3 linked regions of the Homo sapiens genome follow. The protein of the gene in region 1 purifies or fractionates together with the protein of each later gene. This does not show direct contact. Each region holds a gene or a part of one and is shown in the gene's direction. Other genes may lie near its edges. The genes, in order: CFAP107, PM20D2 and GGPS1.

The links.
Region 2: the proteins of CFAP107 (region 1) and PM20D2 purify together in Homo sapiens (affinity purification with mass spectrometry; one large-scale study listed by BioGRID and IntAct). This does not show direct contact.
Region 3: the proteins of CFAP107 (region 1) and GGPS1 purify together in Homo sapiens (affinity purification with mass spectrometry; one large-scale study listed by BioGRID and IntAct). This does not show direct contact.

What each region holds. Positions count from the first base shown.
Region 1 is NC_000001.11:12,759,684-12,763,337, forward strand, and holds part of CFAP107 (cilia- and flagella-associated protein 107), read left to right. Parts: intron 1-1,086; coding exon 1,087-1,268; 3' UTR 1,269-3,654. UniProt on the Homo sapiens protein: Microtubule inner protein (MIP) part of the dynein-decorated doublet microtubules (DMTs) in cilia axoneme, which is required for motile cilia beating.
Region 2 is NC_000006.12:89,155,920-89,159,573, forward strand, and holds part of PM20D2 (xaa-Arg dipeptidase), read left to right. Parts: intron 1-2,405; coding exon 2,406-2,541; intron 2,542-3,654. UniProt on the Homo sapiens protein: Catalyzes the peptide bond hydrolysis in dipeptides having basic amino acids lysine, ornithine or arginine at C-terminus. Postulated to function in a metabolite repair mechanism by eliminating alternate dipeptide by-products formed during carnosine synthesis.
Region 3 is NC_000001.11:235,331,452-235,335,105, forward strand, and holds part of GGPS1 (geranylgeranyl pyrophosphate synthase), read left to right. Parts: intron 1-3,654. UniProt on the Homo sapiens protein: Catalyzes the trans-addition of the three molecules of IPP onto DMAPP to form geranylgeranyl pyrophosphate, an important precursor of carotenoids and geranylated proteins.

The sequences.
Region 1 (3,654 bases):
CTTGGCTGTGTAATGAAGCCATCACCTGTGCCCCATGGTGGCGGGCTTAGAGCACAGGTGGCAGGGAGCAACATCCACGCATCCTTCCTCCCAGTCTTATTTACTACATGAATAATGACAATATTTCCCAGGTAGTGCTCCCTGCTGCAATGATAACAAACACTGAGGAATTTCTGGACTCGGGGAGTTGACATTCCAGGGGGGAAACAGATAAGACACCATTAAAAAGTAAGAACACTTAAGATCACATAGATAATTTTAGACAGGAGTGTGCGCTATAAAGAAAACAGGTAATGGAGAGAAAGTGAGGTGGTGAATTTGTGAACCTCCTTTGGTTCACAAATTCCTCCTTGGAAAAGTGAGGGGTGGTCTTTGTTGAGGAGATAGAGTTGAATTGGGAAGAAGGGAGCCATACAGGGATTGAGGGGGAGGACATTCCAGAGGAAGGAACAGTAAATGAAAAAGTTCTAAGGCAGGAATGGAGGAGGATCATGTAGGGGTTCATAGGGCACAGTGAAGGGAATGAAATTTGTCCTATCCACAATCCCAAGACTTGGAATGCACTTTTGTAGGAGAGTGCCTTGATGTGATTTACATTTCAAGCCACGTCCACACTAGTGAGGACACAGAGCAGTGCCAGCTCTTTGTGGTCCTACCTTTTGATGCAAAGGGACACAGGTCAGAGGATGAGCTGCTGGTCACTCTGCATTACTTTTGCATGGGATTCTTCTCAACATCACTCTCAGTGCACACAGCTTCCTTCCCGACAGGGGTGGGACAATTACTCAGGACCAGCGAGGCCACGCACAACCACACCATGGGGCTGACTTTTCCAAGGCCCCCGTGGCAGAGCCTGATCTCCCCTGAGCACTTGGGATGCAGGTGCACCTTGAGACCGCCAGGGGCTGGCTGAACCAATGCTCTCTGCAAGGCTCTTCCCTGTGGGCCTCTGCCAGCCTTGGTCCCTGACAGAGCAGCCTGGGAAAATCTCCAGGGCCCCTGCTGCCCAGTCTCGTGGCCATTGGCCATTTAGAGCAAGACTCCTTCTGTAAGCCCCATTCAACTGGACCCTGGTTTCTCTTGCAGCTCCCCCTACAAACTATGGACTCTATGAGCAGCTCAAGCAGAGACAGCTCACACCCAAGGCTGGCCTGAAGCAGAGCACTTATACTTCATCCTACCCCAGACCACCGTTGTGCGCTATGTCCTGGAGGGAGCATGCGGTCCCGGTCCCTCCCCATCGCCTGCATCCTCTCCCACACTTCTGAGAGCTGCCACCCCAGGAGCAGCTCAGATAGAATCAGCTGGAGACCACAGCATCACTGGACTTGCCAGACAACAAGTGGCGCAGATAAACTCAGAGTACGAGATCTGGCCCGTCAAAGGTGCTCTCAGAATCATCATCTGCATTTGGCGGTACCTGTCCCCCCTCAAAACCCACAGGTTCCTTTCTTTTCCATCCAACAATTAAAGATCTTTGACACTATTGCAGGGCTATGTACGTGCACAAGACAGATTCAGACTGTCAGAGAAAACAGGAAGGGCCCTTAAGTTCTACCCTGTTGTTTCACAAGAGGGGAAACTGAGGCCCGGAGAGGTAATGTGACTTGCTGAAGAGTCTACTCCCATGGAGGAAATGAATCTGATGATGAAACCCATCATGAAAACTCCACAGAATGACTGAATGTGGTTCCCAGGAGGGCAGTGCTGCAGAGCTGGCAATGGGGAAGGACCCCAGCTTGTCTGTCATTGCCAAGGCAGAGGAAGGCGTGCTCTGGCCCCACGGGGCTCAGAAGAAGGGGAAAACACATGGCATTTCCTTTGTCTCTGAGCTCGCAAATCTTTGTGTTTTTTTTTTTGTTTTTTTTTTTGAGACGGAGTGTCGCTCTCTTGCCCAGGCTGGAGTGCCGTGGCACGATCTCAGCTCACTGCAACCTCTGCCTCCAGGGTTCAAGCGATTCTTTTGCCTCAGCCTCCTGAGTAGCTGGGACTACAGGTGCGCACCACTACGCCTGGCTAATTTTTGTATTTTTAGTAGAGACAGGGTTTCACAATGTTGGCCAGGCTGGTCTCGAACTCCTGACCTCGTGATCCGCCTGCCTCGGCCTCCCAAAGTGCTGGGATTAGCAGGCGTGAGCCACCGCACCTGGCTGAGCTCTCAAATCTTTATGAGCCTGGGCAGAGGGGAGAACCTCTGGTGAGTGATTTGGGAGAGAGGGTGGATCTCCTAGCAGAAGAACTCAGGCATGGTCCTCGCCCAGGACAGGGGTCCACAAGTGTGCATGCTCAGTGCTCGCACAGAGCTGCCTCTTTGAAGAAATTCCAGCAGACACCTTTGGCCCTTTGCATGCTTGGCTCATGGGCACAGGTGTGTTTTGTCAGTGATTTTGTACTGCACACCAATAATATGACTCCCAGTATGGGAGCCTGAGTCTCTGCCATTGTTTTCACAGGATACCTGCTGGCCTCAGGCCACCTACCTTAGGGTCACTTTGGCACCTACTAAGTTCCTTCCTTAGTCATCCAAGTGTCCATGTAAGGACGCTGTCTTCCATCCCAACTGAAAGTCAGAGCCTGACACAGGCTAAGTCCTCTATGTTTGTTGGATGAGTGAATGACAGGAGTTGAACAAATGAGTTGAATGAATGAATGACAGGAGGAGGAGCCAGGGGGTGCAGAAAGGTTGCACCTACCTTAGGGTCACTTTGGCACCTACTAAGTTCCTTCCTTAGTCATCCAAGTGTCCATGTAAGGACGCTGTCTTCCATCCCAACTGAAAGTCAGAGCCTGACACAGGCTAAGTCCTCTATGTTTGTTGGATGAGTGGATGACAGGAGTTGAACAAATGAGTTGAATGAATGAATGACAGGAGGAGGAGCCAGGGGGTGCAGAAAGGTTGCTGCAGGAGACAGCTGTGGGATGGAGTGGAGCTGGCTGTCCTCACACCTCCAACATCCAGCCTTTCTATTGAGCATCCATTGAGCCATGTCTGGGCCAGGCCCTGACCTCACAGAGCCTCAGTCCAGCAGTCAGGGAGGAGCATGAGGTAAATGGCTGCAGGACAGAGAGGTGCTGCAGCTGGAGGCCCTGGGGGACAGCGATGGATTGCGAGGAGTGAGGGAGACCCAGGATATGCTAAGCAGGGGCGTCTAATCTTTTGGCTTCCCTGGGCTACATTGGAAGAAGAATTGTCTTGGGCCACACATAAAAAAATGAACAGGGGCTGGGCGCAGTGGCTCATGCCTGTAATTCCAGCACTTTGGGAGGCCTATATGGGCGGATCACCTGAGGTCAGGAGTTTGTGACTAGCCTGTCTAGCACAGTGAAACACTGTCTCTATTAAAAATACAAAAATGAGCTGGCATAGTGGTTCATGCCTGGAATCCCAGCTACTCCAGAGGCTGAGGCAGCAGAATCGCTTGAACCCAGGAGGCGGAGGTTTCAGTGAGACCAGATGGTACCACTGCACTCCAGCCTTGGTGACAGAGTGAGACTCCATCCCAAAAACAACAACAACAACAACAAACTTACACTAACGGTAGCTGATGAGCTAAAAAAAAAATCGCGTAAAAAAACCCCATAATGTTTTAAGTAAGTTTACAAATTTATGTTGGGCCACATTCAGCCTGCAGGCGGAGGGTTGGACAAGCTTGT
Region 2 (3,654 bases), on another chromosome or scaffold:
TGTCACCCAGGCTGGAGTGCAATGGCGCAATCTCAGCTCACTGCAACCTCTGCCTCCCAGGTTCAAACAATTCTCCTGCCTCAGCCTCCTGAGTAGCTGGGATTACAGGCGCCTGCCTCCACACCCAGCTATTTTTTTGTATCTTTAGTAGAGACGAGGTTTCATCATGTTGGCCAGGCTGGTCTCGAACTCCTGACCTTGTGATCCACCCACCTCAGCCTCCCAAAGTGCTGGAATTACAGGTGTGAGCCACCACACTGACTGGTTTTGTTGATTTGAACTATAAAGTTAGTATTTAAAATCATGTACTGTGTAAAGTGGAGTGAGTTTTAGAATTATACAAGATAAGAATCTTGCCCTAGAGGGAGCCTGTAGTCTAGTTGGAGAGACAAGATCTTGACCCATAACTCTCAGCCTAGCTAATTCTGTAACCTTTAGAAATGTTTAGTGTCTTTGGCTCTCCATTTTCTTGCTTGAAAAATGGAGATAATAACAATTTATCTTAGGATTCTTGTGAGAATTAAATGAGATAATGTTTCTGAAGGGTTTAGAGCCCAGCCTTCATTTATATTGCCTTATTTTTTTCTGTTCTTATTAGTCTAGAGATGTATGATTGATTCACGTAGTAGCAGTATCTCACAGTAGCAGTAATTCTCAGAAAGCATATGTTACGTGTCCTGAGAGTAGTGTGGAATGTGTCGTGAGGATCAGAGGTGGGAAAGAGTGGTCTGGGGCTGTTAACCTTGGAGGAAGGTTTTGTGGAAGACTGTAGACCTGAACTGAGCTTTGAAGGTTGATCATACTTTCAGATATGCATGGGAAAGACAGAGACTGAAAGTTCTTAGGGAATATAGTCAGCAAAGATAAGAATATAGAAGCTCGTGTTGTGTTGTAGTTAATCGATAAACATATGGACAGATGTAGGAGCAAAGATGTATTCTCATATGCCACTAGAGAAGATGGTTATAGTGAATGAAAACTGTGAAATGTCCATAGCTGAGGGCAGTAAAAACTAAATATTTATTCCCTTATTCATTTATAATTATAAATATTTATTTGTGAAATACTTATGGATGTGAACTATTATCATTAGGCAATATCTCAAGGTATACAGTATTCCCTTATGGTAAGGTTTGTTGTTATTGGATTTGAATCTATATTTAATTTAATTTATTTATTTTTAAAGTTTTTTGTAGAGATAGGCTCTCCCTGTGTTGCCCAGGCTGGTCTCAAACTCCTGGGCTCAAGTGATCCTCGTGCTTTGGCCTCCCAAAGTTCTGGGATTGCAGGTGTGAGCCACCTTGCCTGGCCTAAATCTATATTTTAAATAATCTTTTAGTAATTTCTTATATTTTGGCTGACTTGTAAGGTCTGATTTGGTTGTCATAATTTCTACCGTAGATGTTGCTAAGAATAAAAGAAATGTCATCTCTGCCATTTTATGATTGGCTTTTGCTAATATTGGTTTGAGGGAATATTGCCAATTTTTATTTAATCAAAACTGAATCTGTAAATCCACTTAACTGGGCACATAAAAGCTGCTTCCGTATCTTTATATACTGAAATTAATAAATGAGGACTGTTGTCAACCCTTCCTCATTGCAAATCTTCTACATTTCCCTCAGAGTACTTTTCTACCTCTCACACCAGGCAGTGATGTCAGTGTCAGTTTGCATATTGAATATTAGTAAAGCTTAATTTCTTTTTTTTGGAGACTGAATCCTAGAGCAGTGTTCCTCAGAGTGTGGTTTTTGGGTCACCTATGTCAGAATTACTTTGAGGTGCTGGTTAAAATAAAAATTAGGCTGGGTGCAGTGGCTCATGCCTGTAATCCCAGCACTTTGGGAGGCCGAGACGGGCAGATCACATGAAGTCAGGAGTTTGAGGCCAGCCTGGCCAACATGGCAAAACCCCATCTCTACTAAAATACAAAAACAATTAGCTGGGCTTGGTGGCAGGCGCCTGTAATCCCAGCTACTTGGGAGGCTAAGGCAGGAGAATCATTTGAACCTGGGAGGCGGAGGTTGTGGTGAGCTGAGATCACACCACTGCACTCCAGCCTGGGCAACAGAGTGAGACTCCATCTCAAAAATAAAATAAAAATTTCTGGGCCCTTCTCATACCCTATCTAGGTGACTGAAGTTGACACTTGGTAGCTAGTATAGAGCTTGGTGACATTGTGGGGTTTAGTGTATATATAGCATAAAAGAGAGTCCTAGGAACTCTCGTTATAGAAAATAAATCTTTTTTCTTTTTTAAGGTAAGAGATTTGAGAGTGTTTATATCTGGAAGGGAAAGTATCTTCTCTTAAAACCTCTTCCTATTAGAGAACAATCACTGGTTTGAAAATTAGATAGTGAATTTGAGTTTTTTATTTCAAAATTTGTTTTGCAATTTTTTATTAGGTGGAAATTAAAGGTGGAGCACATGATTATTACAATGTTCTTCCCAATAAGAGCCTATGGAAAGCCTATATGGAAAATGGAAGAAAGCTAGGAATAGAGTTCATTTCAGAAGATACAATGTTGAATGGCCCTTCAGGTAATTAAGTGTTTTTTTATATATTGAGCTATTTGAGGAAGAGAAATACCATCTTTGGTTAAATTGGTTGTATTTAATGGTTTGGGAGGTCGGGAGGTACTACTGACGTTTTTAATATTTTCACAAACTTTATGGTTAGGGGAAAGAAACTAATGGACTCTTAAGTGAGTGTAGAATGTCAAACGAGCAGACTTGATTTTAGAAATAGTCAACCTACATTTTTGTCTGTATTCTAAATATTTTCTAGTGTTTAAGTTTCGTTAGTTTTAATTTTTAAGTAAGTTGCTAAGGTGGGATATAGAATTTTAATTCATTCTCAGTCATCACAATAAGCAGGTTACTAAGTACTTAGTTATCTGGGGCATTTTCAGTTTCTGAGGAGCAACAGACAGCTAGAATTGAAATAAGCATATTTGGGGTTATGTTAGTTTTTTTTTCCTTTTAAAAGCATATTATTACTAATACATTTGCAAGTTAGAGATGTATCATCTGTTTTAAAAATAGATGTTGTTGAAGTAGGCCCAAAAGGACTTGGTGGTGAAAATGGGGTGTCGGTGTCATTCATTAAGATAAGGAGTTCAAGAGAAAGAGCAGGTTAGGGTAAGAGGGGGTTGTTATAAATTATTAGTATGTTAAACTTGAGGTGCTTATAGTATTTCTAAGTGGAGCTGTTCAGTACCTGTTAAATCTAGAACCCAAAAAGATGTCTAGTTTGGAGATTTAGGAGTTGTCCATATATGAAAGGTATATAGAAGACATAGATGTCGATGAGGTTGCCCAAATACATAGAGGAAGAAGATTCCCAGAGATCAGACATTGGCAGTCAACGAAGTGGTCAGAGAGAAAGCCAGACAATCAGGAGAGAGGAGAAGTCATGGAAGCCAAGGGAGAAGAAAACTTACAGAAGAGAAGGAGGCATAAATCATGTCAAGTGCTGTAGAGACTGAATAAGATGAATATGGTCTAGTGTCCACTGGACTCTAGTAATTAGAAATTCATGAATTGTCTGGAAGAAAATAGTATAAGACCAGTGGTACCAGATGCTGGGTCTCACTTCTCTACCCAGGGCATTGACTGCTGAGATAGTGGAAGTAGCAAATGAAGACTATTCTT
Region 3 (3,654 bases), about 220 Mb from region 1:
ACAAACACGAATATTTGTCTGCTTGGCATTAAAGGGTAAAGATATTCCATAGCTGGGAATCTTAATCTGAGGTACGTGTAAACATTCAGGGACTATATGATCTCTGAGAATTTGTATGTTGTAAGTCTTTGTGGCAGTGTATACATTTGTGTTGCAACTTATTAACACATACACCGGGCTTTTTTTTTTTTTTTTAGAAGATTCATAGCTTTCATCATATTCTCAAAAGGTTTCTGTGACCCATGAGATGGTTTACAGTATGGGGAAGCATCAAAGCACTTGCACAGTTGATGGTTATATGTGTGTGTTATTATTTCAGCCACCCATTATCATGTGCTTACCAACTGCCTAACAGTGCATACATATGTAGAAGTTTTATTCTTTTCTCCTGTTGCCATATTATACGTCTCATTTCACAGCAGAAAAACAACTGCATGACAGAGACAATGTGGTTCAAACCATTTTACCCTTGTATTCATTGACTGCTACAAAACAGGAACATTAAATACCTGATTGTCACCAAATTGGGTAGTCTCAGCACTTCTACACTCGTAATTGTGCTGGAAAAGTGGAATGCTAGCACTAATAATTAGATTTTGGTTTGGAGGGTTTTTTATTTGTTTATTCTTACTTGTATAAATTTATGGGGTGCAAGTGTAGTTTTATCACATGCATAGATTGCATTGTAGTGAAGTCAGGACTTTTAGGGGGTCCATCACCCATGTAATCACGTTGTACCCATTAAGTAATCTTTCATCATCCACCTCCTTCCCACCTTCTCACCCTTTGGAATCTCCATTGTCTATCATTCCACACTCCATGTCCATGTATACACATTATCTAGCTCCCATTTATAATTGAGAAGATGTACTATTTGTCTTTTATGTCTGACTTGTTACACTTAAGGTAAGGGCTATCCATCCATTTTGCTGCAAATGACATGATTTCATTTTGTTTTAATGGCTGAGTAATCATTCGTTGTATATATACCACATTTTCTTTATTCAGTCATCTGCTGATGGACACTTAGGTTGATTCCATATCTTTACTATTGTGAATAGTGCTGTAATAAACACATAGTGCAAGATTTTGGAAATTTTACTTTTGTGGCACGTTGTTGGTATTTACTCAGGATCTTTGGATTTGCTTGGCTGCATGTATATGAATCAGTGTGTTTATTTACTGAAATATGTGCAAAAGTCTTGTCTTTGGTGGATTAATTTATAATATAAATCCACAAAAGTCAGATTCTGCTCCTAAGTATATTTTACATTTTTAAATTTAATGCCAGCAAGAAGTTACAGTACTAGAATTGCCTTACCCCTGAGAGTATCAATGATCAGATCATAGTATCAGGTGACTGGGCTATAGAAGATGACTTTTATTACTTAACATTATGAAGTTACTAGGGCTGATTTAGAAATCGAGGAACACTGGTGAAACCCCGTCTCTACTAAAATACAAAAATTAGCTGGGCGTGGTGGTGGGCACCTGTAGTCCCAGCTACTCAGAAGGCTGAGTCAGGAGAATTGCTTGAGCCCAGGAGGCAGAGGTTGCAGTGAGCCGAGATCGTGCCACTGCACTCCAGCCTGGGCGACAGAGTGAGACTCCGTCTCAAAAAAAAAAAAAAAAAAAAAAAAGGAACACATCCTCACTGTTACAATAAATAACAGTAGCCCACACCCCCTTAGTTGTGATGTGGTGTGATACCATGTAAGCAACCTATTTCCAGTTCCCCTAACATTCTCAAGCAGCTGTATCAGAATCATACAAGATGCATATTTAAATTGAAGATTTCTAAGTCTCTGGCCCAGACTTAGAAAAAAAGGATCAGGCCGGGCACAGTAGCTAACACCTGCAATTCCAACACTTTGGGAGGCTGAGGCGGGTGGATCGCCTGAGGTCAGGAGTTTTGAGACCAGCCTGGCCAACATAGTGAAACCCCATCTCTACTAAAAATTCAAAAAATTAGCTGGGCGTGGTGGCAAGAACCTGTAATCCCTGCTATTCGGGAGGCTGAGGCAGGGGAATCACTTGAACCCGGGAGGTGGAGGTTGCAGTGAGCCAAGATTGCGCCACTGCACTCCAGCCTGGGCAACGAGCAAAACTCCGTCTCAAAAAAAAAAAACAAAAGGACCTTTGAGCAATCAGAATAACACAAAGTACATGAACTGAACTTCATTTTCTTCATTCAAAAGAAAGTGGCCCTCACTCAAGCAAATATATTCTTGTGCTTTATCTTCTGGCATACTGAGATAACTTTCTAAAGTGGTTTCCAATTCCAAAATCCAATGATGTGCAACTCATTGAACAGCCCTAACCACAAACTGCCATTAGATGCCATATTACATTTAGCCTTTTTGTTGTAGAAAAGTTGGTTAGAAGTGGGCTCAGGATTCTAAAGACTAAATCATAGTCCCAAGAAGCAAAAGAAAGAGGATAAAAGTAATAAACTTCCCAAAATGTGCCAAAGATGCTAGAGCAGTTAGATTCCTAATATGAGGACAAGTAATAATAGAAACAGATACAAAGAAATAAAGTAGAGATTCAACAGTACAGGGAGACCCTAGGAAGACCATGAGTGTTATTCTAGGAAATACTGAAATAAGACAGATTTCAGTATAAAGGGGAATATGTTTAATAAATATATGCATTTGAGTTAATGCGTATTTTAAATCAGAAATCTCTGAAATGGATTGATTGTAGAGAAACTACTAGGGGGACGAGGAGAATCCCTTTAAATTTTAAATACATAAAACATACTCATCTTAGTGCTCATTTAAAAAAGGATATGTTTACTAATTAGTGTAATCAGTTAAATACAGAGGTATCTTTCCAATTCTTTGGATGTGTTTTGACATTTGCCGTCAACAAATTAAGCCTTTTGTGGTTGATTAAAATAGGAAAAGCTTAATATAAGTTATGTGACTAAGAAAACAACTTAAAAACCAAGACAACACTTTGACCAATATAATCACTTGAATGAAGAATTTTCTAATTGAGATATAATTTACATACCACCCATTTAAAGTGTACATTTCAGCAGTTTTTAGTGTATTCACAGGGCTGTGCAACCATCACAATTTAATTTTATAACATTTTGATCCCTGCGAAAAGAAACCCTGTACTCATTAGCAATTAGTCCCTGTTCCTAACCACTAATCTACTTTCTTTCTCTGTAGATTGGCTTATTCTGAACATTTCGTATAAATGGAATCATACAATATGTAGTCTCTTGAGATTGGCTTCTTTCACTTAACATGTTTTCAAGGCTTCATAGCTGTAGAATCTTGCTTTGTTTTTTTGAGACTGGAGTCACTCTTTCGCCCAGGCTGGAGTGCAGTGGTGTGATCTCAGCTCACTGCAACCTCTGCCTCCCGGGTTCAAGCAGTTCTCCTGCCTCAGCCTCCCAAGTAGCCAGAACTACAGGCACACACCACCATGCTCGGCTAATCTTTGTAGTTTTAGTAGAGATGGTGTGAAGGCTGGTCTCGAACTCCTGACCTCATGATCTACCCACCTCAGCTAATTTTTCATATTTTTAGTAGAGACAAGGTTTTGCCATGTTGCCCAGGCTGGTCTCGAACTCCTGGGCTTAAGCTATCCGCCCGCCTCAGCCTCCCAAAGTGCTGGGATTACAGGCGTGAACTACCG